4 linked regions of the Homo sapiens genome follow. The protein of the gene in region 2 interacts with the protein of the main gene of each other region in a pairwise test. Each region holds a gene or a part of one and is shown on either strand. Other genes may lie near its edges.

Region 1 (8,230 bases), on a different chromosome or scaffold from region 2:
CCTGGAAGGTTCTGTGTTTTGTTTGTGTTAATGCAGTATCTCTGGAATGCTAGGATATGTAGGATCCATAGGGCAAATAGTTCTTCTGAAATGTCTTATCTGTGACATTTGATGACATTTGGTTGAGCTGTTGTCAAACCTTTAGCAATCTAGAGCATTCCATTTCCTAAGGTTCACTGACTTGGGTTGATCAGTTGAGTGGACAAATAACCTTTAAAAACCAAAGTGTAGGCCTGACGTCACATGAATGTAGACAGCAAATTCATCTACCTTCAATGAAACAGATGACTGGGACACAGGCATTCTGTGTTACCAGATTAGGCAAATGCAGGTTCCTTTTGGCACCCCTATCTCTAGTGATTCTAGATTTGATGACAGTATAATGACAGTATAATGATGAAAATTCAGAAATTTAACATTGATACAATGCTACTGTTTAATTCAGTACCCATAGTCAAATTTTGTCAATTGTCTCAATGTTTTTCCCTTTCTCAACACAATTTCAGTCCAGAATCACTGTGTTTAAGTCTCTTTAGCCTCCTTTAATCTGGAAATATTTCTTTTTTTTTTTTTTTTTTTTTTTTTGAGTCGGAGTCTTGCTCTGTCCGCCCAGGCTGGAGTGCAGTGGCGCGATCTCGGTTCACTGCAACCTCCGCCTCCCAGGTTCATGCCATTCTCTTGTTTTAGCCTTCTAAGTAGCTGGGACTACAGGCACCTGCCACCACACCTGGCTAATTTTTTTTTTGTATTTTTAGTAGAGACGGGGTTTCACCGTGTTAGGCAGGATGGTCTCGATCTCCTGACCTCATGATCCACCTGCCTTGGCCTTCCAAAGTGCTGGGATTACAGGTGTGAGCCACCATGCCCGGCCTCTGGAAATGTTTCTTTTTTTTTTTTTTTTTTTTTTTTATTGATCATTCTTGGGTGTTTCTCACAGAGGGGGATTTGGCAGGGTCACAGGACAACAGTGGAGGGAGGGTCAGCAGATAAACAAGTGAACAAAGGTCTCTGGTTTTCCTATGCAGAGGACCCTGCGGCCTTCCGCAGTGTTTGTGTCCCTGGGTACTTGAGATTAGGGAGTGGTGATGACTCTTAACGAGCATGCTGCCTTCAAGCATCTGTTCAACAAAGCACATCTTGCACCACCTCAATCCATTCAACCCTGAGTGGACACACCACATGTTTCAGAGAGCACAGGGTTGGGGGTAAGGTCACCGATCAACAGGATCACAAGGCAGAATAATTTTTCTTAGTACAGAACAAAATGAAAAGTCTCCCGTGTCTGCCTCTTTCTACACAGACACGGCAACCATCCGATTTATCAATCCTTTGCCCGCCTTTCCCCCCTTTTCTATTCCACAAAACCGCCATCGTCATCATGGCCCGTTCTCAATGAGCTGCTGGGCACACCTCCCAGACGGGGTGGTGGCCGAGCAGAGGGGTTCCTCACTTCCCAGTAGGAGCGGCCGGGCAGAGGCGCCCCTCACCTCCCGGACGGGGCGGCTGGCCGGGCGGGGGGCTGACCCCCCCACCTCCCTCCCGGACGGGGCGGCTGGCCGGGCAGAGGGGCTCCTCACTTCCCAGTAGGGGCGGCCGGGCAGAAGCGCCCCTCACCTCCCGGACGGGGCGGCTGGCCAGGCGGGGGGCTGACCCCCCCACCTCCCTCCCGGACGGGGCGGCTGGCCGGGCGGGGGGGCTGACTCCCCCACCTCCCTCCCGGGCGGGGCGGCTGGCCGGGCAGGGGGCTGACCCCCCCACCTCCCTCCCGGACGGGGCGGCTGGCCGGGCGGGGGGCTGACTCCCCCACCTCCCTCCCGGACGGGGCGGCTGGCCTGGCGGGGGCTGACCCCCCACCTCCCTCCCGGATGGGGTGGCTGCCGGGCAGAGACGCTCCTCACTTCCCAGACGGGGTGGCTGCCGGGCGGAGGGGCTCCTCACTTCTCATATGGGGCGGTTGCCAGGCGGAGGGTCTCCTCACTTCTCAGACGGGGCGGCTGGGCAGAGACGCTCCTCACCTCCCAGACGGGGTCGCGGCCGGGTAGAGGCGCTCCTCACATCCCAGACGGGGCGGCGGGGCAGAGGCGCTCCCCACATCTCAGACGATGGGCGGCCGGGCAGAGACGCTCCTCACTTCCTAGATGGGATGGCGGCCGGGAAGAGGCGCTCCTCACTTCCTAGATGGGATGGCGGCCGGGCAGAGACGCTCCTCACTTTCCAGACTGGGCAGCCAGGCAGAGGGGCTCCTCACGTCCCAGACGATGGGCGGCCAGGCAGAGACGCTCCTCACTTCCCAGACGGGGTGGCGGCCGGGCAGAGGCTGCAATCTCGGCACTTTGGGAGGCCAAGGCAGGCGGCTGGGAGGTGGAGGTTGTAGCGAGCCGAGATCACGCCACTGCACTCCAGCCTGGGCACCATTGAGCACTGAGTGAACCAGACTCCGTCTGCAATCCCGGCACCTCTGGAGGCCGAGGCTGGCGGATCACTCGCGGTTAGGAGCTGGAGACCAGCCCGGCTAACACAGTGAAACCCCGTCTCCACCAAAAAAATACAAAAACCAGTCAGGCATGGCGGTGCGCGCCTGCAATCACAGGCACTCGGCAGGCTGAGGCAGGAGAATCAGGCAGGGAGGCTGCAGCGAGCTGAGATGGCAGCAGTACAGTCCAGCTTCAGCTCGGCATCAGTGGGAGACCGTGGAAAGAGAGGGAGAGGGAGACCGTGGGGAGAGGGAGAGGGAGAGGAGGGAGAGGGAGAGGAGGGAGAGGGGGAGGAGGGAGAGGGGGAGGAGGGAGAGGGGGAGGAGGGAGAGGGGGAGGGGAAATGTTTCTTAATCTGTCTTTTTTTTTTTTTTTTTTTTTTTAAACAGAGTCTTGCTCTGTGGCCCAGGCAGGAGTGCAGTGGCACCATCTCCACTCACTGCAAGTTCTGCTCCCCCAGGTTCATGCCATTCTCCTGCCTCAGCCTCCCGAGTAGCTGGGACTACAGGCGACCGCCACCACGCCCGGCTAATTTTTTGGTATTTTTAGTAGAGACGGGGTTTCACAGTGTTGACCAGGATGGTTTCGATCTCCTGAACTCGTGATCCACCCGCCTTGGCCTCCCAAAGTGCTGGGATTACAGACGTGAGCCTCCGCGCCCGGCTGCTTTGACATTTTTCAAGACTACAGCCAGTTATTTTGTAGATCGTCTCACGCTTTGAATTTGATGTTGCCTCATGACTAGTTGAGGTTATGTAATTTTCAGGCGAAATAACACAGAGGTGATGTTGTATCCTTCTCAGTGCATCGTGTTAGGAGATACGTGATGTGGGTTTGTGTCCTTATTAGGGACAGTAATTTTGATTACTTGGTTAAGGTGGCATCTCAGGTTTCTGGACTGTGAAGTTACTATTTCCCCCATCTGTCATAAATAAATAATCTGTTGGGAGTTACTATGACACTAGATCACGCTACTGAGAAACTGAATGCTAATCTACTTGGTTAGCATTCTTTGATTCTTGCCTGAGGCAATTAATATTATGGTTCCTGAATGCTGATTTTTCTAAATACATTGTTCTTTCTACATTTATTAGTTTGTTTCCTATTGTTTGGAAGAACTTTTCCTTCTTTATTCATATTAGCATGGACTCATGCATTAGTCAATGGATCATACTTTGTTCTATCTAATCTCCACTAAAGCTCTCTGAAGAAGGCAGTGGTTGGTAGTCTTTTATGAGGGATCTAGTTCAAAGTTACGTTTTTTTTTTGAGATGGAATCTTGCTCTGTTGCCTAGGCTGGAGTGCAGTGGCATGATCTCGGCTCATTGCAACCTCTGCCTCCCAGGTTCCAGCGATTCTCCTGGCTCAGCCTCATGAGTAGCTGCGATCACAAGCAACCGCCACTACGCCTGGCTAATTTTTGTATTTTTAGTAGAGAGAGGGTTTCACCACATTGGCCAGGCTGGTCTCGAACTCCTGACCTCAGGTGATCCACCCACTTTGGCCTCCCTAAGTGCTGGAATTACAAGCATGAACCACCATGCCTGGCCAGTTTTCACCCAGTAGTTTTGACATTCATTGCTAATCCTTGGCTGGATCAGTTTTTACCAGTGGGGGTTGCAAGATGGTCATTTTCTAATTCTATTCTAGATTCATGGTAAAGAAATTCCCTCCCCATACCCTTTCTTTTGAGGATCCCTATGGTCTTAAGGATATTTATTTAATTATTTAGTTACAGACAGTTACAGTCATTATTCTCTTTGATAGTTGTCCTAAATTTGGCTGATGGGAGCCCTTGCTTCCTGTGTCTTTTGATATGATCTTGTTAGTCTTGTCCCCTTTCCGCACAATACAGTGCTTCAGACCTGGAACTTTGGTTTCTATTAATGGGAAATGGTCCGTTTTTTAAAAAAAAAATAAGTAGAAATGGGATCTCTCTGTGTGGCCCAGGCTGGTCTCAAACTCCTGGGCTTAAGTGATCCTCCTGCCTTGGCCTTCCAAAGTGCTGGTATCACAGGCATGAACCACCATGCAAATGGTATTTAATAGAAATAAATACTTGGGCACTGATAACACTGGTTTTTTTTTGTTTTTGTTTTTTTTTTGAGACAAGAGCTTGCTCTGTTGCCCAGGCTGGAGTGCAGTGGTGCGATCTTGGCTCACTGCAACCTCCACCTCCCAGGTTCAAGTGGTTTTCCTGCCTCAGCCTCCTGAGCAGCTGGGATTACGGGCGTGTACCACCACACTGGACTAATTTTTGTAGTTTTAATAGAGACGGGGTTTCACTATGTTGGCCAGGCTGGTTGTTTTGTTTTTTAATTTGCCAACATTGTTTTTAAGAGTAACATTGTAGCCCGTTGTGTCATTGTTACATAATTTATTGAGTGATCTGTTGTTTGAAATTTAGGTAATTTATAACTTTTAATGTTTATATAAAGCAGTGTTGTGAACATCATTGTATCCCAGTTTTTACATGTTCCTTAACTTTAGAATAAGATTTTAGCAGTAGATTTTCTGGGTCATACAAATGTACTTTTTAAAGATTTTATTTTATTTATTTATTTTATTTTTTATTTTTTTGAGACGGAGTCTTGCTCTTTCGCCCAGGCCGGACTGCAGTGGCGCTATCTCTGCTACTGCAAGCTCCGTCTCTGGGGTTCACGCCATTTTCCTGCCTCAGCCTCCCGAGTAGCTGGGACTACAGGTGCCCGCCACTGCGCCTGGCTAATTTTTTTTTTGTATTTTTAGTAGAGACTGGGTTTCACCGTGTTAGGCAGGATGGTCTCAATCTCCTGACCTCATGATCTGCCCGCCTCAGCCTCCCAAAGTGCTGGGATTACAGGCGTGAGCCACTGCGCCTGGCCAAGATTTTATTTTTTTAATTTTTATTATTATTATTATTTTTTAAGATGGAGTTTTTTTCTTGTTGCCCAGGCTGGAGTGCAATGGCACAATCTCGGCTCACTGCAGCCTCTGCCTCCCGGGTTCAAGCGATTCTTCTGCCTCAGCCTCCCGAGTAGCTGGGATTACAGGCGTGCACCACCAGCCTGGCTAATTTTGTATTTTTAGTAGAGACAGGGTTTATCCTTGTTGGTCAGGCTGGTGTCGAACTCCCGACCTCAGGTGATCTGCCCGCCTTGGCTTCCCAAAGTGCTGGGATTACAGGAGTGAGCCACCACGCCCAGCCTTTAAGCTTTTAAATGTCTACCAGCAGTTTGTTGTCTAGAAAGTTTATATTAGTGTTTACCTCAGCTTCATGCCTTTTCTTTTCTTTTTTTCTTTAATAATTGAAGGCACTACTTTTAGAAGAAAAGACTAACTGTTATTTTCGTTGATGTTTTCTCCCTATTCTTAAAGCCGCTGTCTGACAGAAGTTTCTCTTGACACTGATACAGTGATATTTGACTAAGTGTGATTTGAAATTTCTTCTGGCTATGAGTGATAATAGCTGTGGGTGCAGAGGGCAGCTGATTTAAACATTATGTTTTAATAGAATAAGACAAGTCCTTCTCTAGGAATCCATCAAAAAATGAAGTGAAGCATACCTTTTAGATACTACTGTACCATGAATGTTGTGGAGTAGGAAAAATCAGGATCTTCTGTATTCGTTTTTGAAGCAGTGTCTTTGAAAGTAGCTTTTGGCCGGGTGCGGTGGCTCACGCCTATAATCCCAGCACTTTGGGAGGCCGAGGCAGGTGGATCATGAGGTCAGGAGATCGAGACCATCATATCCTGGCTAACACGGTGAAACCCCGTCTCTACTAAAAATGCAAAAAAATTAGCCGGGCGTGGTGGCGGGCCCCTGTAGTCACAGCCACTTGGGAGGCTGAGGCCAGAGAATGGCGTGAACCCAGGAGGCGGAGCTTGCAGTGAGCTGAGATCCACCACTGCCCTCCAGCCTGGGCGAAAGAGCAAGACTCTGTCTCAAAAAAAAAAAAAAAAAGAAAGTAGCTTTCATTCACTTTAGCTTTTCATCTTGTTTCTAAAGGTGGGGCAGATAAAGTGAGTAGGAACTGAGGTAGGAAGTCTTGGTGCTAGAGAAGCCCAAAGGGAAACATTCTGTGTGTTTGGGAATGCCCTCTTGTAGTACCCCTCCTATTTGTAAGCCTGAAATCATTAAATATTAAGAGGTTGTAAGGTTTACTGGGTCTTCATGTGTAGGCTAGTTAGAATTTTTTCATCTATAGTGAATATAGCTTTCCTGATGCAAAAGTCCCAAAGTAGGAGAAGATTTGTTACATATTTCATGTTTGTGTTTGATGTTTGCCTGACTGACTTTTTGTTTCTTATTTAGAAATGACTGCTGTCCATGCAGGCAACATAAACTTCAAGTGGGATCCTAAAAGTCTAGAGATCAGGACTCTGGCAGTTGAGAGACTGTTGGAGCCTCTTGTTACACAGGTAAGAATCTGAAAACACAAATACATTGTAACATGGTTCTATAGCACAGGCCTGGGTAACAACCATAAGAGCAAGGTTATTTAGTTCAAAGCCTTAATTCCAGTACTTGAGTTTAGGTGACAGTTCTTAGATGATTTGAATATTGATGCATGGGTTTAGTTAACCCTTGAGAACGCTGCTGCTGTCGTTTTCTTCAGTCTTATTGCTAGTAACGGGTCCATGGTATGTAGTGCAACTTTGCAAATGTTTGTGCTTTGCAGATACTTCACCTTTCTTCAGAGGGGAAACCCAAGAAAGGTGGAGTCTGGATCCTTGATTGTTAAGGTCTCTCACTCTGCTTAACACACCTTTCATTGTGTGGGATTAATTAGCAGGTAATTCAACTTGAGGGTTTAGGTTTGGTATGCTACAAATGTCACAATGTTAGGGTAGTTCATAAACTGTTAGCAACTAGCTGTGTACTTTTAGTGTTTTACAATAGTATGTCTATTGTTTGTATGTGAGAGATTCAGAGAGAGAGAGAGAAAATGAGTCTTGTTTGGCAAATTTACACTATAACATATATTCATCATCTTTAACCTAGAGATAATCTGGTATTATGTGTATTAATGATGGTAATGTTCTAAGACATAAAGCGTCATCACTGTAGGCTTCTTTGGGCAATCATTCGTTTATTGGGACCTTTACTAATTGCTGAGATTTGTGTGAATAAACTGTCAAAAGACTTCAGAAGCAAATTATCTTAAAATGTTTTGCAAAGTTTGAAAACAGTGGCAGTGTGATCTCCAGATAAAGCTAAGTTCATTGTTAACCTCTTTCTGGAACATCTTGGTGACATATAGTAGAGACATCTAACTTGTCTCTAATCATTTTTTAATTTGTAAAATCAAACTAAAAACCTAATGATCATATTTGAGAAATTAAAATATGTGTTAAATAATTCTCTGTACACATTAAGAAAGCTGAATTATTTTGGAAATTAAATATAGCATCATTGCTGTATATCTTAAATATGGGGAATTGTATGTTAATGTTCAGTGGAATCTCATGTGATTTTTTAAAAGAATAACTTAATCTTGCTGTCTTTAAAGATATTAGTTTGTCATTTTAATTGACTCCAGTTTAATGTTAAAAATGAAACTTTTAGGTTACAACCCTTGTAAACACCAATAGTAAAGGGCCCTCTAATAAGAAGAGAGGTCGTTCTAAGAAGGCCCATGTTTTGGCTGCATCTGTTGAACAAGCAACTGAGAATTTCTTGGAGAAGGGGGATAAAATTGCGAAGGAGAGCCAGTTTCTCAAGGAGGAGCTTGTGGCTGCTGTAGAAGATGTTCGAAAACAAGGTAGGTCATTAC
Region 2 (8,230 bases):
CACAGTGGCTCGTGCCTATAATCCCAGGTACTTAGGAGGCTGAGGCTAAGGATCGCTTGAGCCCAGGTTCAAGGCAACAGGGAGCTGTGACCACTGCACTCCAGCTTAGGTGACAGAGCAGATTCTTGCTCTTACAAAAAAAAAACGATTTGAATTTAAAACTTTTAACTCTTGGTTTGTTAGCTCACTATATTGTACTTTGATCATATTTTGCACGTTTAGCTCTTAAAGTGCTATATTTGCAGAAATAGTTGATCTATTTTCTTTTTAATTCAAGAGCTTAGTTGAAGCTCCTAGGAAAATGTATTCTTTTAGAAGTATATATGGAAGTCTGTTTCTCCTTCACTAGTTTCCTGTTTGAAAAATGTTTGTAATAACCATCATACAATTCTATTTTTGCATGATTTGAGGATGAATGTGCAAAGCAATGGTTCCATCAACTTAGATACATTTTTCTTCACTTTATAAGTTAAGACAGTGCTTAAGAAATTATTCCAAACTTTAGAATTTTCAGTAATTTTAAATGTTGATACAGATGATATTCTCTTAAAAGAAAAACTTATAAAGTAGCCAAAACAGGTCATATTTATTGACTAGAGGGGTTTTTTTCACTAAAATTTGGCTTTTCTCTAAACTTTGGTTCACAAAATTGAAAGATAGTGATTAAATAATTTTGATGTGGTGATTTGTTTTTTCTTTAAGATGCTTCACTGTCTGGTTCTGAGAGATCAGTATCAGAAAGGTCTTTATCTGCATATGCAAAGAGAGTAAATGAATGGGACAGTCGAACAGAAGATTTTCAGACCCCATCTCCAGTTCTCAGATCATCAAGGAAAATCAGAGAAGAATCTGGAGATTCTCTAGAAAATGTACCTGCATTACATCTTCTCAAAGAATTAAATGCCACTAGTAGAATTCTTGATATGTCAGATGGCAAGGTTGGAGAATCTAGTAAAAAATCAGAAATAAAAGAAATAGAGTATACAAAATTGAAGAAGAGTAAGATTGAAGATGCCTTTTCTAAAGAAGGTAAATCTGATGTCTTACTGAAATTAGTCCTAGAACAGGGAGATTCATCTGAAATTCTTTCAAAGAAAGATCTTCCTTTAGATTCTGAAAATGTTCAGAAAGACCTAGTTGGATTAGCTATTGAAAATCTCCATAAAAGTGAGGAAATGTTGAAAGAGAGACAGTCAGATCAAGATATGAATCATAGTCCAAACATCCAATCAGGAAAAGACATTCACGAACAAAAGAACACAAAGGAAAAAGATTTGTCTTGGTCAGAACATCTTTTTGCTCCTAAAGAGATACCATACTCTGAAGATTTTGAAGTGTCTTCTTTCAAGAAAGAAATTTCAGCTGAATTGTACAAAGATGATTTTGAGGTGTCATCTTTGCTGTCACTCAGGAAAGACTCTCAGTCTTGCAGAGATAAGCCACAGCCAATGAGGAGCTCTACAAGTGGAGCCACTAGCTTTGGTAGTAATGAGGAAATCAGTGAGTGCCTAAGTGAGAAAAGCCTTTCTATCCATAGCAATGTTCATTCTGACAGGCTGTTGGAACTCAAGTCCCCTACTGAGCTGATGAAAAGTAAGGAGCGCAGTGATGTGGAGCATGAACAGCAAGTTACTGAATCCCCTTCCTTGGCTTCAGTTCCTACTGCAGACGAGTTATTTGATTTCCACATTGGTGATAGGGTGTTGATTGGAAATGTTCAGCCAGGAATTCTTCGATTCAAAGGTGAGACTAGTTTTGCTAAAGGATTTTGGGCCGGAGTGGAGTTAGATAAACCTGAAGGAAATAACAATGGAACATATGATGGTATTGCATATTTTGAGTGCAAAGAAAAGCATGGTATTTTTGCTCCTCCTCAAAAAATATCTCACATTCCAGAAAACTTTGATGACTATGTAGACATTAATGAAGATGAAGACTGTTACTCAGATGAACGATATCAGTGCTATAATCAAGAGCAAAATGATACAGAGGGTCCAAAAGACAGAGAAAAGGATGTCAGTGAATATTTTTATGAGAAATCCCTACCTAGTGTGAATGATATAGAAGCCTCAGTTAATAGAAGTAGAAGCCTTAAAATAGAAACAGACAATGTACAGGACATTTCTGGGGTACTTGAAGCCCATGTTCACCAGCAGTCTTCAGTGGATTCACAGATTTCTTCAAAGGAAAACAAAGACCTCATTTCTGATGCCACAGAAAAGGTTTCCATCGCTGCAGAAGATGACACTTTAGACAATACCTTTTCCGAAGAATTGGAGAAGCAACAGCAGTTTACAGAAGAGGAAGACAACCTATATGCTGAAGCTTCAGAAAAGCTTTGTACACCACTTCTGGATCTTTTAACAAGAGAAAAAAACCAACTGGAAGCCCAGCTGAAGTCATCACTAAATGAGGAAAAAAAGTCAAAACAACAACTGGAAAAAATCAGCTTACTGACAGACAGTTTACTAAAAGTCTTTGTAAAGGACACAGTCAATCAACTACAACAAATCAAAAAAACCAGGGATGAGAAAATCCAGCTTAGCAATCAGGAGCTTCTTGGTGATGACCAAAAGAAAGTAACACCCCAAGACCTATCCCAAAATGTTGAGGAACAGTCGCCAAGTATTTCAGGTTGCTTCTTAAGTTCTGAATTGGAAGATGAAAAAGAAGAGATTTCCTCTCCAGATATGTGTCCCAGACCGGTGAGTATTTCGTCTAGAAAAAGTATCAGTATACCTTTTGACACTTTTAACAAGGCAACTTACCTTGCCTATATAGTACATTTTAATTCTGTGACTCCTGATAGGTTTTTTTTCCCTTGACGTGTTGTTTATTAGAGAAGGATCACTGTACTGGTTTTTAAAGGCCTTGTAGCTGTTTTTCCTGGCTGAAGTGTAATTGTCCTCTATTATGTCATGAGTAGTCAATATAGGGTTGTCACAAGCACTGGCAGGTTTTGGGGAACTAAAACATCCATTTAAACTGCTGAGTTGACAACCCCTGTACTGTCCATAGATTACATCTCCTTCCAGATTCACTGAACAAATTCGTTCCATGGAGCTTTCCAGTGGCTCACCACCCAATTCTTTTTTGCCTGTGAAATTGTTTACATATCTACTCAGTCATGGTTGGCCTGCAGAGGTTAGCAGTTGTGATGTTGATTCTGGTAAAATGAAATAGATCCACTATGACATGCACTCAGACCATCAGCTTGTTTATGTTGCCCATGGACAGTTGAGCAAAAGTAATGACTTTGAGTAACTTGAGCCAGATGGTCACCAGAGGTGAGAAATTTTATATCCCATTTCCATATCCCATAGACAGTTCTTTAGAAACAGAATAATGATAATACAAAAAGCGGGGAGAGCCCTAATCAATAAACATTTTATAAAAATTCAGTTATATGCAAGGTTTATATAAGTAGAATTGAGGGAACAGGATAACTTTTTCTTAGATTGTTTATTAGTAGCCACCATATTGTTTTTTATTCTGCTTACTTATAGAGAAATATTAGATATATAAATAATGCATTTACTCTGTCTTTTTTTAAAAAAAAATGATATGAGGTCCCTAAATGGTGCTCTGTTTGAATGGTTCCATTTCTATAGGAGAGCCCAGTATTTGGTGCCAGTGGGCAGGAAGAACTTGCTAAGAGACTTGCTGAACTTGAACTCAGCCGGGAGTTCCTGAGCGCGTTAGGAGATGATCAAGACTGGTTTGATGAAGACTTTGGTTTGAGCTCTTCTCACAAGATCCAAAAAAATAAGGCAGAAGAAACCATTGTACCTCTAATGGCAGAACCTAAAAGAGTAACCCAACAACCATGTGAAACATTATTGGCAGTCCCCCATACTGCAGAAGAAGTAGAGATTCTTGTACATAATGCAGCAGAAGAACTTTGGAAATGGAAAGAATTAGGCCACGATCTTCATAGCATCAGTATTCCTACAAAACTGCTTGGCTGTGCCAGTAAAGGTCTAGATATAGAAAGCACTAGTAAAAGGGTCTACAAACAGGTAGGTGAAATAAAAGGATAATTTTAGTTTTTAAACTTTTCTCCCATTGTCTGAAATTTGGATTCTTAGCCATTTTGTTTTGTTTTGTTTTGTTTTTCTCTATCAAGGCGGTTTTTGATTTAACAAAAGAGATTTTTGAGGAAATATTTGCTGAGGATCCCAACTTAAATCAACCTGTCTGGATGAAGCCATGTAGAATCAACTCTAGTTATTTCCGACGAGTGAAAAATCCAAATAACCTTGATGAAATCAAGGTAAACTGCAAACTATAAAGTGTCTTCTTTTTTGACTTGCTGTTCATTTACACATATCTGTAAATGTTGTAAAAGCAGGTGCTCTTCTGTATGATTAACCTTTGTGTCTTCAGGACCTGTTCCATAGTGGGTATTCAATAAAGATTTGTTGACTTACTGAATCCATGAACAGTGGAGGGATTGGAATGAGTGAAAGGGCTGAATCCTCAAGTTTGTGCAAAAAAAAAAAAAAATTCTTTTACCAGTCATTTTCTCTATATACATAATTATAATATTTAAGAAAAATTAGGAAATACCTAGGGAGATAAATTATTGCAACTAATAGGAGTTTTAGGTAAGTTTTGGGGGCTTTAGAGATAGGTATAATGTTCTAAAAGTACATATGAATACGTGTCATATATATGTCTTTTCAATATGCCAGCCCTGGACACATAGGTGTTAACTTCTTTATCTTTGACTTTGGAGGTTTCAAATTGGTAATGTGGTTTTGAACTATGTAGGATAGTAATGTGATACGTAAAAATATTTATTTTGTTATCTAAGAAACCTTTGTAAACCTTTGTCCAGAAGCTACAAGGACTATGAACTTTAAAGTCACATTGCTGGCAATCTGCTCTGCCTAGTCACATGTTTCTTTACGGCAAAGGTTATATTTCCAGAGCAGTGATTCTCAACTTTTAATGTGCATGTGAATGATCTGAGGATCTTGTTGAAATGGAGATTCTGATTTAGTAGGTCTGGAGTAGGACCTGAAATTCTGCATTTCCAACAAGCTCTCAAGTCATGCTGGTCCTGCTGGTCCTGCTGGTCCTGCTGGTCCCAGGACCACGCTGAGTAGCAAAGCTTTAAACTTGTATTTCCCAAACTTATTTGATCACAGAAAGCCTTTAAAAATATTTTATACTTATAGAACACCAACAGATATTTATGAGATGGGATGTATGCTTACCTCAGGGGTTGGCAAACTATGGCCCATAAGCCAAATCCAGGCCCCTGTATGTTTTTATAAATAAAGTTTTGTTGGACCACAGCCATACCTAGTTGTTTACATGTTACAACTACATGTAACTACAACAGTGGAATTGAATAGTTGTGACAAAGACCACATGGCCCGCAAAGCCTAAAATATTTACAGTCTGATTTTTTACAGAAAAAATTGGCCATCCCCTGGCTTAAAGTAACTAGCTTTTTAAAAACACATTGTATACTCCATTCCTTCTACCCTTTCACAATTGAAAATGCTTGAATGCTATGTGTGTCTGTGAACAGGTAGGGAGTGATGGAATTTCCGGGCACGTTGGTACTTTGAGAATCTTTCCAGGTGATTCTGATTCATAAATGTGTCCCTTCCCCTGTTAAGAACATTGTTTTTTTAACAGAACAACCATAAAAGTAACAAAATAAATTATTAATAACATTAAGTTGAGGTAAGACAAGATATATAATATATACCAACAATCAAACTACATGCATCAATATAGCATACAATAAATGCCCACTAATTTTAATATTGACATAACATTTTGTAAAGTTTTTAAGGGTGATAGTTCAAATATTGTTAGTAGTAAAATTATTATGCTTCTCATACTGAAGTGTTGATATTTTTTAATTTAACATATTTGAGTTTTGGTGCTTCAAAATAAACTATCCCAAAGTCTTTTGCTTTTCTCACATTACATTGTCCCCAAAAATTTCTTTGAGATTTTTCCAATTCAGAGATTTATTTTATGCTTTCTTTAGTAGTTTTGCCAGCTTGAAGTTAGCTAATGGTAGTTTTGTTGTTGTTTTTTCTTTGTTTTTCTTGAGGTGGAGTTTCACTCTTGTTGCCCAGGCTGGAGTACAATGGCGTGATCTCAGCCCACTGCAACCTCCGCCTCCTGGATTCAAGTGATTCTCCTGCCTCAGCCTCCTGAGTAGCTGGGATTACAGGCATGCGCTACCTCACCCAGCTAATTTTGTATTTTTAGTAGAGACAGGGTTTCTCCATGTTGGTCAGGCTGGTCTCGAACTCCCGACCTCAGGTGATCCGCCGCCTTGGCCTTTCAAAGTGCTGGGATTACAGGCGTGAGCCACCGCACCCAGCATGGTAGTTCTTAAGTAAACTCTAAAGTGATTTTTCTTTGCAGATTAATCAGTGGGTTTTACTTTGTTGTTGTTGTTGTTGTTGTTATTTTTAGATAAGATCTCGCTTTGTCACCTAGGCTGGAGTGCAGTGGTGCAATCTCAGCTCACTGCAGTCTGGACCTCCTGGGCTCAATCAGTTCTCCCACCTCACCCTCCTGAGTAGCCAGAACTACAGTCATGTACCACCATGCCCAGCTAATTTTATATATTTTTTGTAGAGATGAGGTCTCTCACTATGTTGCTCAGGCTGGTCTCAAACTCCTGGGCTCAAGTGATTCTCCTGCCTTGGCTTCAGAGAGTGCTGGGATTACAGACGTGAGTCACCGTGCCCAGCTAGGTTTTACTTTTATATGTTGCGTAAGTGAATAAAGTCTCAGCATTTGGAATGCTTTTCCCTTCAAATTGCTATGTGGAACTGTAAGTGGAAGAAATTTGTATGATAATTTTATTGTAAATATTATATTCTTATCGTGAATCTGTTTACTGCATTGTAAACACATGAAACTCAGGAATTTCTGTTGTTTGTGTTTCGTGTATTTGTCTTGTTTCCACAGAGCTTCATAGCAAGTGAAGTACTCAAGTTGTTCAGTCTTAAAAAGGAGCCAAACCACAAAACAGATTGGCAGAAAATGATGAAATTTGGAAGAAAGAAAAGAGACCGAGTGGATCATATCCTGGTCAGTGTATACAACCAAACTGTTTTTATTTTGACCATATCTTTTAAACTCAGAATGCAGTTAGATTCTAAAAGGAAAAGGGATAGACTTATTCTTAAATCTATGGTATTAAAATCTTAAAGCCTTTACTTGCTGCATTTCTACCCCTCAGTTTTGTTAACTATTTTCTTTTGTACTCAGTAGATGAACATTTAACTTGATCAATAGTATTTTATGTAGAACTTGAGAAATTTACTCAAATGGAAGCAAAGTTTAAGGTAGTGAATTGAAAAGAGACCAGTGTGGACTCTGGAGCCTGACTGCCCATGTTTAAATCTCTTGATGTGTAATCTTGGACAAATTTGTCTAACATTTTTGTGCAAAGTGAAGGTAACAATAATAGTACTTACCTGATAAAATTATTAAGAAAATTAAATAAGTATATGTGTAAAGCACTTAGAATAGTTCCTCATATACAACTCAGTAAATAATAGCTGTTACCTCATCATCATCACTATTATCATTATCCAGAACATTCCCTGGATAGGATTTATTTGGTTTTGCAATATATTTCTGTAACATTAGGAAAGTGTTTATCAAAAAAGAAAAAAAGAAAAATTCAGGTTTCACTCTAAACATTTTAATTCTGGACCTTTTATCTATATTGACATTTATATAATGAAAAAAAGTGTAATACTTAAATTTATCACCGTTCTCATGTATGTACCTCTCTAGTGTTTCATTTACTCAGTAATAACTGTACTAGATAACATTTGCTTAGTATTTTATAGTTTATCATTCTTATGCCTTATTTGATTTTTTTTTTTTTTTTTTTTTTTGAGACACAGTCTCGCTCTGTCACCCTGGCTGGAGTGTGGTGGCACAATCTCTGCTCACTGCAGCCTCTGCCTCCCAGGTTCAAGTGATTCTCATGCCTCAACCTCCCGAGTAGCTGGGATTACAGGCACCTGCAACCATGTCCAGCTAATTTTTGTATTTTTAGTAGAGATGGGATTTCGCCATGTTGGCCAGGCTGGTCTCAAACTCCTGACCACAAGTGATCCGCCTGCCTTGGCCTCCCAAAGTGCTGGGATTACAGGCATGAGCCACCGCGCCCAGTGTCTTATGCCTTATTTGATCCTCACGATAATTACATGAGGTAGGAAGAACTAATGTT
Region 3 (8,230 bases), on a different chromosome or scaffold from region 2:
AATGTGATAAACACTACAAGAAGAGAGTAACCAAATATGGCATTAGCCCAGTAAAAGGACTGACTGACTCTTGTGGAGAATATTTTAAAAGGCTTCACGAGGAAGGGATATTAATGTGCGGTTTTAAAGGATGAGAAGGAGTTTGCCTGCCAGAGAACTAAGGACATAAAAAAGATGTTCTCTAGTGCTTAGGTGTCTTTATGTGTCATAGGTTTTCCTTCCCTGTCATGACATACTGATGTTAGAACAATATATTTCACTCCCATCTGCCAGGAGACAGTCATAATAAATATGCAAATCTACAATTTCTTTACTTTTTTTTTTTTCTGAGACGGAGCTTCACTCTTGTTGCCCAGGCTGGAGTGCAATGGCACAATCTTGGCTCACTGCAACCTCTGCCTCCTGGGTTCAAGCGATTCTCCTGCCTCAGCCTCCCGAGTAGCTGGGATTATGGGCATGTGTCACCACAGTCAGCTAATTTTATATTTTTAGTAGAGACTAGGTTTCTCCATGTTGGTCAGTCTGGTCTCGACCTCCTGGCCTCAGGTGATCCGCCTGCCTCGGCCTCCCAAAGTGCTGGGATTACAGGCATGAGCCACCGTGCCCGGCCGCAAACCTACAATTTCTAAAGTGTGAATGTGACAATTTTGTGCAATACGCAACGCGCAAAACAATGGAAGTGCTGATATTCTTTTGAAAAACAACCCTTATGGCCATGTGGACTATCAGTAAAAGAGAAAGAGACAAGAAATTCAGAAGAGAGATGAGACCTCAACAATGGCCGAAGCAAAGGGGATGGAGAGCAAGAAGAGCCAGGAGAAATCTGGAAGACATACTTAATTACTGATGACATTTGGGGAATGACAAAGGAATAAAAGGACACACTGGCCAGGTGCGGTGTCTCAGGCCTGTAATCCCAGCACTTTGGGAGCCCAAGGCAGGCGGATCACGAGGTCAGGAGTTTGTGACCAGCCTAGCCAACGTGGTAAAACCCTATCTCTACTAAAAATACAAAAATTAGCCAGGTGTGGTGGCAGGTGCCTCCCACCTACTCGGGAGGCTGAGGCAGGAAAATTGCTTGAACCCAGGAGGCGGAGGTTGCAGTGAGCAGAGATCGCACCATTGTATTCCAGCCTGGGCGATAGGGCAAGGCTCCATCTCAAGAAAAAAAAAAAAAGGCGAGACACTCACCAAAGACTTCAAATTTGGAAGATGCCCATTAACAAAAATGAAAAATACACAAGGAGACATAATTTGGGGATAAAAAGGAAAGTGAAGAGAGAAGGACCAATTTCATATTGAAATGTAATTATTTTAAGTTGCCTGTGGAAGATCCAAGACTCAAGCTGTGATATGTGGGTATGAAGCTCAAGAGAGGGGAATGGACTAAATGCATATATTTGAGAGGCATCAACATGTCACAGAGGCTGAGGCAAAGAGAGAGAGGATGAGATCACCCAATGAGGTGAAACAGGGAATTATGGGCAGAGAGAGATTGCCTCTCTAGACTCCAGACTCTTATCAGTGCTCAAGCCTCTAACATGCCTCTCCCGGAAACCTGCCTATAGTCAAGGCAGCACATATGCCCTCTGCACAAGTTTCATGTCCATAAGCAAAGAAAAAAGAAACCCGATTTTTAAAAATCAGTTTCATTACCATCTGCAAAGACAAGACAATGCAAGGCAAAGTGAGCAAATGACAGCTGAGGAGATGCAAATTCAAATGAATAAGATTAGTGCGAGTATATGAGTACTAAGGAGGTAAAAAGTCCTGTATTAGCCAGTACAGGCTTCCAGAAACCTCCTGGTTAGAGATGGCTAGGAGCCAAGGGGACTGATAAAGAAGAAATGGAGTGGGAGGGGCCATTCCATTTTAAAAAGCACAAGTGACAACACAGATTTCGGCAATGGCAAGCCATAGGTCGGGGTAAAAGCAGACTTAGTTGGCTGAACCAGAGGAGCTGCCTCGGAGAGTCACAAAAAAAGACAGAGGTGTTGAAAGAATACTAGGCTGAAAAGTTTACATTTACCATAATCAAGAGGAGACAACTGCCAGGTTTTGAGCTTCACAGTAAGATAAAACAACAGCATCCAAAGAACACTTAACAGCTGTGTGTAGGCAGTCTAGCATGGAGAAATCCAGAGTCAGAGATTAGTGAGGAGGCTGTTAATATAACGTGAGCCAGAGAGGTCAAAAAGGCAGTTCAGCAAGTCTCTGTGAAGGAGCTGATGCAGGTGCACGAAGAGTCAGCTATAAATCTAAAATCCTAAACCTGGAGCCTCAAATGATGATGGTGTTATGGGCAGGTCCCACTTTTAAATGCTATGCGTTCCAAGGGGCATCTGTTTGCACTTGCTGGAAACAGATGAATGAGCAGGTAACAGACTGAGAAGTGAAATATGTCTTCACTAGGCATTGGGAAATATGTGGTGACTGACTACTCATACTGACAATAAGAGAAGCCAGAAGAGAACAGATTTTGAGAGCAGGGCAAGAGAGGAATCCAGTGAGCAGCAGAGAGCATGGCTGGCAGATGCAGGATAATAAGAACTACCCTTTCTGCCCTCCATCAATACAGATACTTTATTCCCCCAAAGTTCTCAAGTTATGGTGTTCCTTTTTACTACTTCCTGAGAAGCTGAAGTAGTGACTGCACAACAGTTATGTAACCAACCTTAAATAGTAACTTCACCCGTTTCAGCCTCCAATTCCAACTTTTAGAAATGGAGTGTTTTACAATATGGCAAGTGCAGAAGGATGGGTGTTCCTGAATCTTCAACCCAGTCCCTCCAGTAAAACTCCATAAACTGAAAACTATGACAATAGAGGTCATGTCCATTTTCGCTTATCAATATATCTGTAGCACCTAATCTAACACTTGGCATACAGCGGGCATACAATAAATATTTACAAGTGAATTATCAAATGCTATTTACTCTCTGCATGAGAGTAATAATTATCCCAGTTTTCTTTCCTGCCTTCTCTCTCCCTTCCTTCTATGGCTCTTCTTACGATGGAATGCTCTGTTCCTCTCTTTGGGCAATCCCATCCATTCTCACATCTAGGTGGATAAATCCCAATTCTCTATTTTTCACCTCTATATCTTTTTTTTTTTTTTTTTTTGAGACAGAGTTTTGCTGTTGCCCAGGCTGGAATGCAGTGGCGCAATCTCAGCTCACTGCAAACTCCACCTCATGGGTTCAAGCAATTCTCCTGCCTCAGCCTCCTGAGCAGCTGGGATTACAGGGGTGCATTACCACACCTGACTACTTTTTGTATTTTTAATAGAGACGGGGTTTCACCATGTTGGCCAGGCTGGTCTCGAACTCCTGATGTCAGGCGATCCGCCCACCTCGGCCTCCCAAAGTGCTGGGATTACAGGCGTGAGCCACCGCGCCCGGCCCAGCTCTATATCTTTCATTCTAGAGTTGAGGGGATCCGTCAGAAAGAAATTCTGATTATTCCTTAAAGAACTCAAGTGATCTGATAGACCACACAAGGCCAGAAATCAGGTAACCTCAAATAGTGCTGTCCAATAGAATTTTCTGCAATGACGGAAATGTTCTAAACCTGAACTGTCCAATAAATTACCCACCACGTGACAATCGAGCATCTAAAATGTAGCTAGTACAACAGAGAAACTACATTTTTTACTTAATAGTTAAATAACTCCACGTGGCTGGGGGGCTACCATAATATCCACCACAGTCCTGGAAACTTGCCCTGCCCTGATCCATCTCAAGTCCCTCAGGCCTGAAGTTAAGCTCATCATACTGTAACTCCACAGTGCTTATGTATTTCACCTCCCGTTCCTCTTCACAGAACTAGTCCCACTTGCCCATCCCTCTCTCTCCTCTCTTCCCCAAGAAACACATACATACTGGCATACCTGCTTTGTGCTCTGCTCTATTACATTTGAAAGATATTGCATTTTTTACAAATTGACAGTTTGTGGCAAATCTGTGTCAAGCAAGTCTTTCAGTGCCATTTTTCCAACAGCATGTGCTCACTTCAGGTCTCTGTGTCACATTTTAGTAATTCTCACAATATTTCAAACTTTTTCGTTATTATTATATCTGTTACAATGATCTGTGATCAGTGATCTTTGATCTTTGATGCTACTGGAAGAAAATGCCATCTAGGACTTTCACAGGTAGAGAGAAGTCAATGCCTGACTTCAAAGCTTCAAGGACAGGCTGTCTTGTTAGGGACTAATGCAGATGGAGACTTTAAACTGAAGCCAACGCTCATTTACCATTTCAGAAATCCTAAGGCCCTTAAGAATTATACTCAGTCCACTCTGCCTGTGCTCTATAAATGGAACAACAAAGCCTGGACGACAGCATGACTGACTGAATATTTTAAGATCTCTGTTAAGAACTACTGCTCATAAAAAAAAGATTCCTTTCAAAATATTACTGCTCATTGACAATGCACCCAAGATCCCTGATGGAGATATATTATACAGGGAGATAAATATTGTTTTCGTGCTTGATAAAACAACATCCATTCTGCAGCCCATGGATCAAGGAGTAATTCTGACTTTCAAGTGTTATTAATTAAGAAATACATTTCATAAGGGTATAGCTGCTATCAACTGTGATTCTTCTGATGGACCTGGAAAAAGTAAATTGAAAACCTTCTGAAAAGGATACAACCATTCTAGATGCCCTTAAGAACATCTGTAATTTATGGGAGGAGGTCAAAATATTAACATAAACAGGAGTTTGGAAAAAGTTGATTCCAACCCTTATGGATGACTTTCAGGGGTTCAAGACTTCAATGGAGGAAGTCACTCCCAATATAGCAGAAATAAAGAGAACTAAAATTATAAGTAGAACCTGAAGATGTGACTGAAATGCTGCAATCTCATGATCATACTTTAATGGATGAGGAGTTGCTTCTTATGGATGTGCAAAGAAAACGGTCTCTTGAGATGAAATCTATTCCTGATGAAGATGTAATGAACATTACCAAAACGCCAACAAAGGGCTGGGTGTTATGGCTCACACCTGTAATCCCAGCACTTTGGGAGGCCAAGGCGGGCGGATCACGAGGTCAGGAGATCGAGACCATCCTGGCTAACACGGTGAAACCCAGTCTCTACTAAAAATACAAAAAAATTAGCCGGGCGTGGTGGCGGGCACCTGTAGTCCCAGCTACTCTGGAGACTGAGGCAGGAGAATGGTGTGAATCCGGGAGGCGGAGCTTGCAGTGAACCGAGATCGCGCCACTGCACTCCAGCCTGGGCGACAGAGCGAGTCTCCGTCTCAAAAAAAAAAAAAAAAAGAAATTGCCACAGACATCCAAACCTTCAGCAACTATGACCCTGATCAGTCAGCAGCCACCAACGTCAAGGCAAGACCCCCCCTACATCAGCAAAAAGATCACAACTCACTGAAGGCTCAGGTGACTATTAGCAATTTTTAGCAAAGTACTTTTAATTAAGGTGTGTACATTGTTTGTTCAGCCATAATGCTATTGCACACTTAACAGACTACAGTATAGTATAAACATAACTTTTATATGCACTAAGAAACCAAAACATGCATATGTTCACTTTATTGCAGTTGTCTAGAACCAAACCCACGTCTCTGAGGTATGCCTGTATGTATACCCTTCAAGTATAATATACTGAACAGCATCTCCCAAATAAATCGCTCTTTTTTTTTTTTTTCTGAGACAGGGTCTCACTCTGTTGCCCAGATTGGGTGCAGGGCGTCATCACAGCTCACTGCAGCCTCAACTTCCTTGGGCTAAAGTGGTCCTCCAGCCTCAGCCTCTGGAGTAGCTGGGACTACAGACACACACCACCATGCCTTGCTAATTTATTTTATTTTGAGATGGGGTTCTCACTATGTTGCCTACACTGGTCTGAAACTCCTGGCCTCAAGCAATCCTCCTGTCTTGACCTCCCAAAGTGCACGGATTACAGGTAGGAGCCACACCTGGCCTAAGTCATTCTTAATATGGTCTCCTGGTATTCCTTTCTCCTAAAACCCAAATCCTATTTAACTTTCAAGCCTCACCTCCTCCCTAAAGCCTTCATTGAGCTGTCTTCTCTTCTCTACATCTTATTATTGGATGTGGTCAAACTACCTTCACAGTTCTCTGACTGTTTAATGTGGATGTAATTCTACTTTCCAAACAAGATTATAATCTCCCTGCTAACAGACTGCATCACTGCCTACGCATTCACAAAACAATGAGGAGGGGTTTCGGGAGATCACTGTCCTGGGCCAGGCCTAGTCTTTACTCCAGGATCCCCCGGTTTTCAGCACCTTTATCAAGTGCATACTATGTGCTAGGCACTATGCTAAATGTCTTACTTACATGGTCTCATTTTAACACTCACAACTCCATTCTGAGAAGAGAAAATTCAGGATGAGAAGATAAGTAACATGTTCAAGTCACATAGCCAATATGTGCCAGAACTACAATTTGAATTCCAAAGAATGGGTTCTTAACCACTGCATCATATAACTTTTGGCTTCACTCATTTGATCGTTCAGTCAAAATTACTACACTCCTGTGTATCTTGTGCCATTCTAGTACTGGGAATAAAGAGATAATATATGAGCCCAGCCTTCAAAAAACTCAGCCTTAGCCAGGCATGGTGGCACGTACCTGTAGTCCCTGCTACTTGGGAGACTGAGGTGGAAGGATTGCTTGAGCCTAGGGGTTCAAGTCCAGCTTGGGCAACACAGCAACACCTCATCTAAAAAAAATAAATCTTGTGGAGGAGAAAAACACAAACAATTATGTTAATAGTAGATGTGGTAAACATGATGATTGCTCTGTGCAAAGGGTGGAAGCACAATGCTAGAGTACCCAACCGAGATTGGGAGGAAGGAGGTGTCAGGAAAAAATTTCCTGGAGGAGGTGGACCTAAACTTTATAACTGAGTCCCATTTATAAACTGGGTTAATTAGGTGAAAAGGAGCAGCCTAATTAGGTGAGGAGCAGGAGGTGGAGAAAGGAAACAGGGAGAAGATTCCAAGCAAAGAGAACAAGGGCAAGTACACAAAGAAGAAATAGCACAGTACCCATGAAGATGCCATTCAGTGTTGCTGGAACCTAAAGCATGAGGCAGAGAAGAGGCTGGAGATACAGGCAGGGTTCAGAACAGGCAGAGCCCTGGCTGAGAAGCTCAAACTTTAGAACTTTCAATGGATTTTGCAAGCCAGTAGACAATGAATGTTTGCTGAATGAATTAGAGAAAAGAATGGATGAATGCATGGACAGATCTTTAAAGATTAAGCAGGAATTTGATACAGACTTGTTTCCAAAGACCATCTGGGGGTGGAGGGGAGTAATGTGAAGAAAAGATATGGGGGAACAGGCCTAGAAGCAGGGAAATCAGTTAGAAGGCCATGATATTGCAGGTAAAAGGACAACAGTAGAGATGGAGAAGACTGCACAGATTTGAGAGATGTTTAGGGGGTAAAACTATCAGGACTTAGTGATGAATGTGATAAGAGTTAAGTCCAGGAAAGACACTGAGTTCAGTTTCAGTCATCTGAATTTGAAGTGTCTGTGGGACTTGCAGGCAGAGCTGTCCAGGAGGATAGTCAGATGTGAGGGTAAAGCTCAGAGAGGTCTAAGCTGACAATTTCAATTTGGGGGCATGTAGGAGGTAGTTAAAACCAAGCCAGCTGATGGGTTCACTCAGGCAATGTGTACAGAATGAAAAGAACAGTTTTCATTCTGAATGCTGGTAATATTATGTATCTGTAACCTAATCTGGATGGTGGTCACATAGGTATAATCATTTTATAAAAACTGGTCAAGCTTCACATCCACATGTATGTTTATTGCAGCACTATTAACAATAGCAAAGAGTTGGAACCAACCCAAATGCCCATCAATGATAGACTGGATAAAGAAAATGTGGCACATATATACCATGGAATATTATACAGCCATAAAAAAGAATGAGTTCATGTCCTTTGCAGGGACATGGATGAAGCTGGAAACCATCATTCTCAGCAAACTAACACAGGAACAGAAAACCAAACACCACATGTTCTCACTCATAAGTGGGAGTTGAACAATGAGAACACATGGGCAGAGGGAGGGGAACATCACACACTGGGGCGTGTCAGGGGGTGAGGGGCTAGGGGAGGGATAGCATTAGGAGAAATACCTAATGTAGATGACAGGTTGATGGGTGCAGCAAACCACTATGGCACTTAGTATACACCTATGTAACAAACATGCACGTTCTGCA
Region 4 (8,230 bases), on a different chromosome or scaffold from region 2:
TCACAGATTTTTTTTTTTTTTTTTTTGTGGAATCAAATGGTTGTTTCACATTTCTTGATTTTCGTTTCATTTGGGGGGTGTAACTGCTGAAGGAGATAAGGAATGGTTAACCTACCCACAGACGTGGGCATTTCTCCCCATTGGAGCACCACATCCTTAGTTATCCGGCCATAGGTGTTTACATACACCCCCTCATCCTCATAGCAAACAAGCATTTCCATTCCATCTGTTTTAGGCAAGATGACAATAGCATGAGGAGTGATATTGCCCTGAATCTAGAAGACAAAGAAAAGCCAAGCATTATTCTTTTAAAAAATAAAACACCTTGACTATTCATCTCTAACAACTGCAAAAAAGAGGTTTTTGTTTATTTTCATTGTCACCCTAAAGACTGAAATTTGCTTTAATTTAACCACTGACTTGTAAAATACCCTGGTAAATCAAACTTAGTCACTAGATTAAAAATTCAATTTACCTGTTCCTAAAAAGAGCATGTAAATCTATGGCACACCTACTATGTGCCAGTCATGGGGCCCTTTACATATATAATTTCTAGTACCTACAATAGCTCCCCAAGGTAGATAGCTTTGTTTACAGATGAGGAAACTGCATCTCAGAAGGGCTTTGTGTCTTAACCAAAGTTGTGCTAGTATTTGTTGGTAGAGTTGGGATTTGTGTATATCTTGCTGACGTTGAAATTAATGTGTTTTCTATTAGCACAACCACTTCCAAAAGAAGATGAGGAGAATGTAAGCCAGCTGAATCTAATGGAGATAGCTTAAGTGGGGTCAAAATGAACTACCAAAATAATCTGTGAAAAAAAAATATATATATAGGATTGTTTATCCGGGTGTCTAAATGCCAGAATAATTCATGGCTTGGTTAGAAAAAATATTTAGAATGACCACTCATTAAAAAAAATCATTATTGCCGCACACAGTGGCTCATGCCTGTAATCCCAGCACTTTGGGAGGCCGAGGCGGGCGGATCACGACGTCAGGAGATCGAGACCATCCTGGCTAACACGATGAAACCCCGTCTCTACTAAAAATACAAAAAATTAGCCGGGCATGATGGTGGGCACCTGTAGTCCCAGCTACTCGGGAGGCTGAGGCAGGAGAATGGTGTGAACCCAGGAGAGGCGGAGCTTGCAGTGAGCCGAGATCACGCCACTGTACTCCAGCTTGGGTGACAGAGCGAGACTCCGTATCCAAAAAAAAAAAAAAAAAAATCACTATTGAAATAAGTGTATATTAATTTGTTCTAGGAAAGGAAATGTGATGTTGTTGTGATCCCCTAGTTGAGAATGCCATGGCAGCCCAACATGTGCTTGACAGATTGGACTAAGAGAGTTGAGGATTATCATAGTTACACCTTAGCTGCCTCACCAGGAATGTGAGCTGTGAGTCCTTGTGTTCACCCACATCCACATGAGTTAAAAGTGGTAATAATGCAGCAATGAATGGCAGTCGTGTGTGTGTATGTAATATACTGAAACAACTTCTTTTAGTTATTGCGTTTCATTAGAATAAAGTCTTAAAACTCTCAAAATACCAGTCAGCGGTAGCTTCAAACATTCCTGATAAATAGTTTCTCCTGTGTGTTAGTCTTGGGATTACACACAGGACACACACTTTACACTACACTTAATCCTAATAAGTGAATCCATGTGCAGCATTTCCCTTTAACAGTTATGTTTCAAGCAATATGTCAGGATAGTAATATGAATATTTTAGGGCTAATAAGAAGATCTACAATTTGCAGGGCCCTGTACCAACTGCTTTAGATCCATTACCTCATTTAATACTAATGATAATCCTATGGGATAAGTCTTTTTATCCATATTTTACAGATGCGAAAGCTGAGGATTGGAGAGGCTGCCTACTGTGTCCATTACTGCAAAGCTAATACATGCTAGAGCCACTGTGTCTGACTCCAGTGTACCACACTGCCCTCAAGCTGAAGAGAGGAACTAAAAATAGCAAAAAAAGAATTTTCTCCAATAAATTAGTACCTGACCATTGGCTTTCTCTAACATAAAATGAACGAATTTCCCTTCAAAAACTGAATGTGGAAACTTGTCTACCGAATATAATTCATGCCCTTGAAAGAAATATGTCATATTCATTTTAATCTAAAGTCCAAAGAGACAACATGTAAATGCCAAATGATTTCTATTATGTATTCCCCAATTTTAGGAAGTCATAAAAATTAGTTAAATTTATATATTTTAGTTATTAAAAGCAGTATACTTAATGAAGAACGAAAGTCCATTTGCTGGTTAGTAAAGTGTGCATGACTTCTACTAAAACTATGCAAAACAAATCTCTTTCTACATGCAGGCTGTTGTACAGAGAGCCCTTGAAAGTCTACTTCTGAGTACTTACATGAGATGGTATGTAGATATCATAAGAGTTTCCTGAATCAACATCAATTACATGGAAACCAGTGTGTGAACCAAAAATAACCTTTAATCTTTGACCTTCTTCTACCGTGAGATCAACTAGCAGAGGCTTGTGCTGGAGATCTGCAAAAGACTTTAAAAATCACCCCATTAGTATCCGCATCACTCAAAGAGGCATCTTAATTTTTTTCCTTTAGCCACTGTCTAGAGGAAGTTAACTTCTAACTTTATTAAAGTGAAAAACTAGAAAATTTCTCTTTCAGTTTTAGGTCTGTTGATATTCTGGCCCTAGGAGGAAGGGTCTAGCATCCATTTGTGCCCCTTTCTCTACCCTTTGTCCTTCGGGGCAGTGAAGTTTAAGTTGGTGCACAGGTGTAAATTTTGATAGTGGTAATGTATATTAAAAACCTGGTGCCTGGGTATTGCTGTTTTTTCCTGTTTATTTCTGGCCTTTGTCCTCTGAAGAAGGCCCAGTCACCTCTCTGGCCCCCCTCTTTCCCATGTGGCAACCAGGCCCATCCACAGCAACTACCCTTTCAGAGACAGCCTGGGAGGGACAGCCAAGGCCGGCTGTTTTCTCAGCCTGTTTAGTATTAATGGGCATGCTCTGGTTTGGATTTTTCTTCAGTGAATGAGTAGGCATAAGATTGGCACTTTCTCTTAATGTTGGAATCTGAGACTTGGGTTTGGGTGGTAGAGAAAGAGGTGGGAGTGGAACATCACAAGATTGATGGCTTGCATTGACTATTTGGGTTTAACTAGAAAGCAAAAAGAGAGATCTTGCCAAGTTTGTCAAAGTTCTCTGTGTTTGAATCCAGAGCCCAAGCCCCAACTAACTGTCAAGTGTTCCTCTGCCATTTTCCTTTGCTATTTTTTAACCACGCTCTACCTTTGGGCCTTGAGATCTGGGAGAGCATTTGTGAAACTACAATTGCCTTAACTATAATGCCACTGCTACCTCTCAGACCCTTCTCTTCTCATCTTTTGCTAACACCATTCTGACAGCATGGGAAGCTCTAGCGTCCTGTCCTTGTCCTATGGGAAGGCTTGGCCTCTTGCCAGTTCCACTCTTTCCTGTTCAAGTCTTTGCCTTTGCTCTTCCCTCTTTCTGGGCTGGATAGGGTCTGTCAGAAAGAACATTTTGCACTCTCTCATGTGTCTCTGGGTCATAAAATAATGGCAATAACTTCAGAGCAAGAATGGGAATGGGATGTTGATTGAAAAGCTTTTGTGGAGATAGATTTTGGCAGAACAGGAGTACCACTTTGGCTTTTAGGAGTTATCCCTTGTTATTAGTAACCTAATGCATTCCAATTTTTTTCCATAAAAGTGAGGTCATGGAGGGGAGCCCATTTCCATTAATGAATCTATTTTCTTGAGCACATCAGAAGCCATCTGCCCTAAGGGAACAAGATAGAAGTGATTCAGCTCTGAAGTGGGCCTACATGGTGTTCCAAGGGCAGTTTTGCCCTTCATGAGAATGTGGCAGAAAATAATAAGGAGCCAAATGGAGATAACAGTCATAAAGGTGGGGAGAAAAAGTGAGAGCCAATGAGACATAAAGAAGTAGACAGACATAAGCTGAGAGAGAGAGAGACAGAGAGAGATCAGAGAGAGAGAGTGAGAGAAAACAGAAGATAAGTTCACTTGGGCTATGGATAGGTTATGCGGCTCTGAACACATCTGGGTGCCTGTAAGTACTGGTCCTCCTGGTATTCGGGTGTCAGCTTCATGAGCTGGGGTCAACAGGACTAGCATATCCCCATCCCACTCCTGGCAAATCTCATGAGTGACCAATCCAACCATGGTGGGTACAGACTTAGACAAGGTAAAAAAATGAAAAGGCAATCAAAATAGAAGAATGCAGAGAAACTAGGTCATTTCTGTAAGTTAGCACTGGGGACATATAAGCATCACCTGAGTTTTAGGGACTTCATTCAGAAAGATTTATGAGGATTAAAAGAGACTCAGTTTAACTCTGAGATTCAGTGCTGCCATTTGTCTGCCTTTTTCAAACAAAATATCAGGGAATACCCTGGTTTAGGTGGCTTTATAACAAATGTCATTGCATAAGATCATAATCAATGCTATGCCTACTAACCATTCTAAATGCCTCTTGAGGATGATGATTCATAGATCTCAAGGAGGAGGGCATACCCAAATTTTAATCTAATTTTATAGCATTTACAAATATTCAGTCTTTACTTTTGAAACAATAAACCCTAGAGTACCTACACTTTTAAAACAGGTTTATTATCTATATGAAAATTGGTATTGGTCTATATGGACTATTTTATTAATGGGTAGAAACGGAAAATTTTTAAAAAGCACATTTTAGATAATCACATCCCTGCTTACCTTAAATGCCATGAATTTATGATACGGTTTAGGAGCCCAAGCATATATTTCCACAGCATTCTTTAAGGCAATCACCAAAAATTTGATCCTTTCATATTTAACTGTAATAGAAAAATTATGAGTGAAAAAGTACATCAATTTACTCAAGTTCTTTGTATTAATATTAATGAATGTATAAGCAACAATATGTAAATTTAAATATTGATGTTGGGTGTCAGCTTCATGAAGGTGATATTCCTGGTGTGGGATTTTTTCATAGATACTGATTTAGCTTCCCTTAGCGAACTTTGGTTGGCAGAATACTTATGGCTTTTGCTTTATATTGAAGACTTTTCATCATCCAGAGATATAACTGCTTAGGACTGTCTTTAACACTAGGTCTTGATGTTGATATTCATTGTAATAAGAATGTGCATAATTTCCTTCATGTTAGCTTGCCTGGCTTTTACGTTCACCCATATTTAAGTAGCTGAGAGCAGATATGGCAAGATGGTAGAAAAATTAGCAAATGGGCAGATATAAAGGCTGCCATTTGCTTATTATTTATATTTGAATTCCAATTACCAAGTGAAATAATTGCTTATTTATGCTTCTAACGAAAGGGGGGTGTTAGGAGTCTTGGGTTCTGTTAGTGGCTTAAAGGGCTACGAATACTGACAAATCCTTTTACTCTTTAGAAAGATGGAATATTAAGCATTGTAAATTCTATGGACAGAAGCTTAGTTAAATGATTGAGTCCCCACAATGCTTTTGCCTACACAAAGTAGTACTCAATAAATGCTTATTGAATGGAAAAATGGAAGAACAGACTGTTGTCTGGCATTCTCTTCATTACTCTTACCTACGTGTGTGTCTCTGATAGAATAATAAGCAATGTTTACGGTGATGACCTTGAGAAATTGAACAATCCTTTAAGTGCCTTCTGAATCTTTTGCTGTTAAGTGTGGATTCTAATTCTTAGAGAATTCGTAATCCACAGTTGGTACACATGGCAGTCAGTTTCTTGGTAAAATATCTCAAGAAACAGAATATTCTGAGTCCTAAAGAAACTAGGTAGGAAAAATTTTAATATACTTAAATGACATTAAGTTTCCAGTTACTTGCTTTATAACTTTTCATGACATAAAGTGTTTATTAGACTATTTTTGCTGATCTCTTCATCTGAAACCTAGGAAAAGATCCACAGCTCTTGGCATTGAAGGAACATACCTCAAAATAATAAGAGCCATATATGACAAACCCAGAGCCAACATCATACTGAATGGGAAAAAGCTAAGAGCATTCCCCCTAAGAACTGGAACAAGACAAGAATTTCCACTCTTACCACTCCTATAGTATTGGAAGTCCTAGCCAGAACAGTCAGGCAAGATAAAAAAATAAAAAGCATCCAAATTGGAAAAGAGGAAGTGAAATTATCTCTGCTGATGACAGGATCTTATGCCTAGAAAACCCTAAAGATTCCTCCAAAAGACTCTTAGTGCTGATAACTTCAGTAAAGTTTCAGGACACAAAATTAATGCACAAAAATCAGTTACATCAATAATGCTCAAGCTGAGAATCAAATCAAGAGCTCAATCCCATTTATAATAACAGACACACACACACACCCCACACACACCCCTAGGATAATACATTTAACCAAGAAGGTGAAAGACCCCTACAAGGAGAACTACAAAGCACTGATGAAGAAACCACAGATGACACAAATGAATGGAAAAACATCCCGTGCTCATGGATAGGAAGAATCAATATTGTTAAAGTGACTATACTGCCAAAAGCAGTCTACAAATTGCCAATGTTGTTTTTTACAGAATTAGAAAAGACAATTCTAAAATTCATATGGAACCAAAAAAGAGCCCAAATAGCCAAAGCAATCCTAAGCTAAAAGAACAAAGTTGAAGGTATCACATTACCTGACATCAAACTATACTGTAAGACTGTAATAACCAAAGAAGCATGTTACTGATACAAAAATAGACATACAGATCAATGGAACAGAATAGAGAACCCAGAAATAAAGCCACATACCTACAACCAACTGATCTTCAACAAAGTCAACAAACATAAACAATGAGGAAAGGACACCCTGGGAAAATTGGCTAGCCATATGCAGAAGAATGAAACTAGATCCTTATCTCTTACCATATACAAAAATTAACTCACGATGGATTAAAGATTTAAATGTACCCAAAACTATAATAAGAAAACCTAGGAAAAACTCTTCTGGATATTGGCCTAGACAACATGTTTATGACTAACACCTCAAAAGCAAATGCAACAAAAACAAAAAAAGACAAATGGGACTTAATTAATAAGCTAATGAGCTTCTGTGTGGCAAAATAAACAATCAACAGAGTAAGGAGACAACCTACATGATGGGAGAAAATATTTGCAAACTATGCATCCAACAAATTTCTACAAGGAATGCAAACAATTCAACAAGAAAAAATCCTATTAAAAAGTGGGCAAAGGACATGAACACACATTTCTCAAAAGAGGACATATAAGCAGCCAACCAACAGATGAACAAATGCTCAATATCACTGAACATCAGAGAAATGTAAATCAAAACCACAATGAGATGCCATCTCACACCAGTCAGAATGGCTAATACTAAAAGGTCAAAAAAAAAAAAAAAAGATGGTGGTGAGGCTGCAGAGAAAAGGGAATGCTTATACACTGTTGGTAGGAATGTAAGTTAGTTCAGTCTCCTTGGGAAACAGTATGGAGATTTCTCAAAGAACTAAAAATAGAACTACCATTCTACCTAGCAGTCCCACTTCTGGGTAAATCCCAAAGGAAAATAACTTTTTTTTTTTTTTTTAAATCAAAAGGGCACCTGCATTTGTACATTTATTGCAGCACTGTTCACAACAGCAAGGTCATGGTATCAAGTTGTCCATCAATGGTTGATTAGATAAAGAAACTGTTGTATATATACAGCATGGAATACTATGCAGCCATAAAAAGAATGAAATCGTGCCCTTGGCAGCAACGTGGATGGAGCTGTAGGCCAATCTCCTAGGGTAAAATAACCCAGAAACAGAAAGTCAACACATGTTCTCACTTATAAGTGGAAGCTAACAATGGGGTGCACATGGACACAAAGCTGGAAATAATAGACACTGAGGACTCTAAAAGGGGAGTGGCAGGTTAAGGGCTGAAAATTTACCTGTTGCGTATAATGTTCGCAATTTGGCTGATGAGTTCACTGGAAGCCCAAGCCTCACCATTATGCAATATACCCATGAAACAAACCTGCATATGTACCCCCTGGATCTAAAATAAATTTTAAAAAGAAAAGAAAAAAAAATCCCTTCAGATTTTGCTGATTTTCAGGGTGAAAGAAGAAATAAATAAGTTTATATTTTTAAAGAAATTTAAAATCATCTTGAAAATAAAAACTTATCTAAGCACATATAGGCTCAGATAAATCAAGAAATATTTTAAATGACTCTTGGATATACA

Evidence for each region.
Region 1: the proteins of CEP350 (region 2) and CTNNA1 interact in binary tests that used the Homo sapiens proteins (3 or more experiments, as listed by UniProt).
Region 3: the proteins of CEP350 (region 2) and APTX interact in a two-hybrid assay, tested with the Homo sapiens proteins (one large-scale study listed by BioGRID and IntAct).
Region 4: the proteins of CEP350 (region 2) and TNIK interact in a two-hybrid assay, tested with the Homo sapiens proteins (one large-scale study listed by IntAct).

The regions. Positions count from the first base shown.
Region 1 is NC_000005.10:138,775,155-138,783,384, forward strand, and holds part of CTNNA1 (catenin alpha-1), read left to right. Parts: intron 1-6,768; 5' UTR 6,769-6,770; coding exon 6,771-6,875; intron 6,876-8,022; coding exon 8,023-8,218; intron 8,219-8,230. UniProt on the Homo sapiens protein: Associates with the cytoplasmic domain of a variety of cadherins. The association of catenins to cadherins produces a complex which is linked to the actin filament network, and which seems to be of primary importance for cadherins cell-adhesion properties.
Region 2 is NC_000001.11:180,091,912-180,100,141, forward strand, and holds part of CEP350 (centrosome-associated protein 350), read left to right. Parts: intron 1-702; coding exon 703-2,705; intron 2,706-3,611; coding exon 3,612-4,019; intron 4,020-4,126; coding exon 4,127-4,273; intron 4,274-6,951; coding exon 6,952-7,074; intron 7,075-8,230. UniProt on the Homo sapiens protein: Plays an essential role in centriole growth by stabilizing a procentriolar seed composed of at least, SASS6 and CPAP. Required for anchoring microtubules to the centrosomes and for the integrity of the microtubule network.
Region 3 is NC_000009.12:32,990,616-32,998,845, forward strand, and holds part of APTX (aprataxin), read right to left. Parts: intron 6,734-8,230; exon of another isoform or gene 6,628-6,733; intron 1-6,627. UniProt on the Homo sapiens protein: DNA-binding protein involved in single-strand DNA break repair, double-strand DNA break repair and base excision repair.
Region 4 is NC_000003.12:171,066,461-171,074,690, forward strand, and holds part of TNIK (TRAF2 and NCK-interacting protein kinase), read right to left. Parts: intron 4,864-8,230; coding exon 4,763-4,863; intron 2,538-4,762; coding exon 2,388-2,537; intron 276-2,387; coding exon 116-275; intron 1-115. UniProt on the Homo sapiens protein: Serine/threonine kinase that acts as an essential activator of the Wnt signaling pathway. Recruited to promoters of Wnt target genes and required to activate their expression. May act by phosphorylating TCF4/TCF7L2.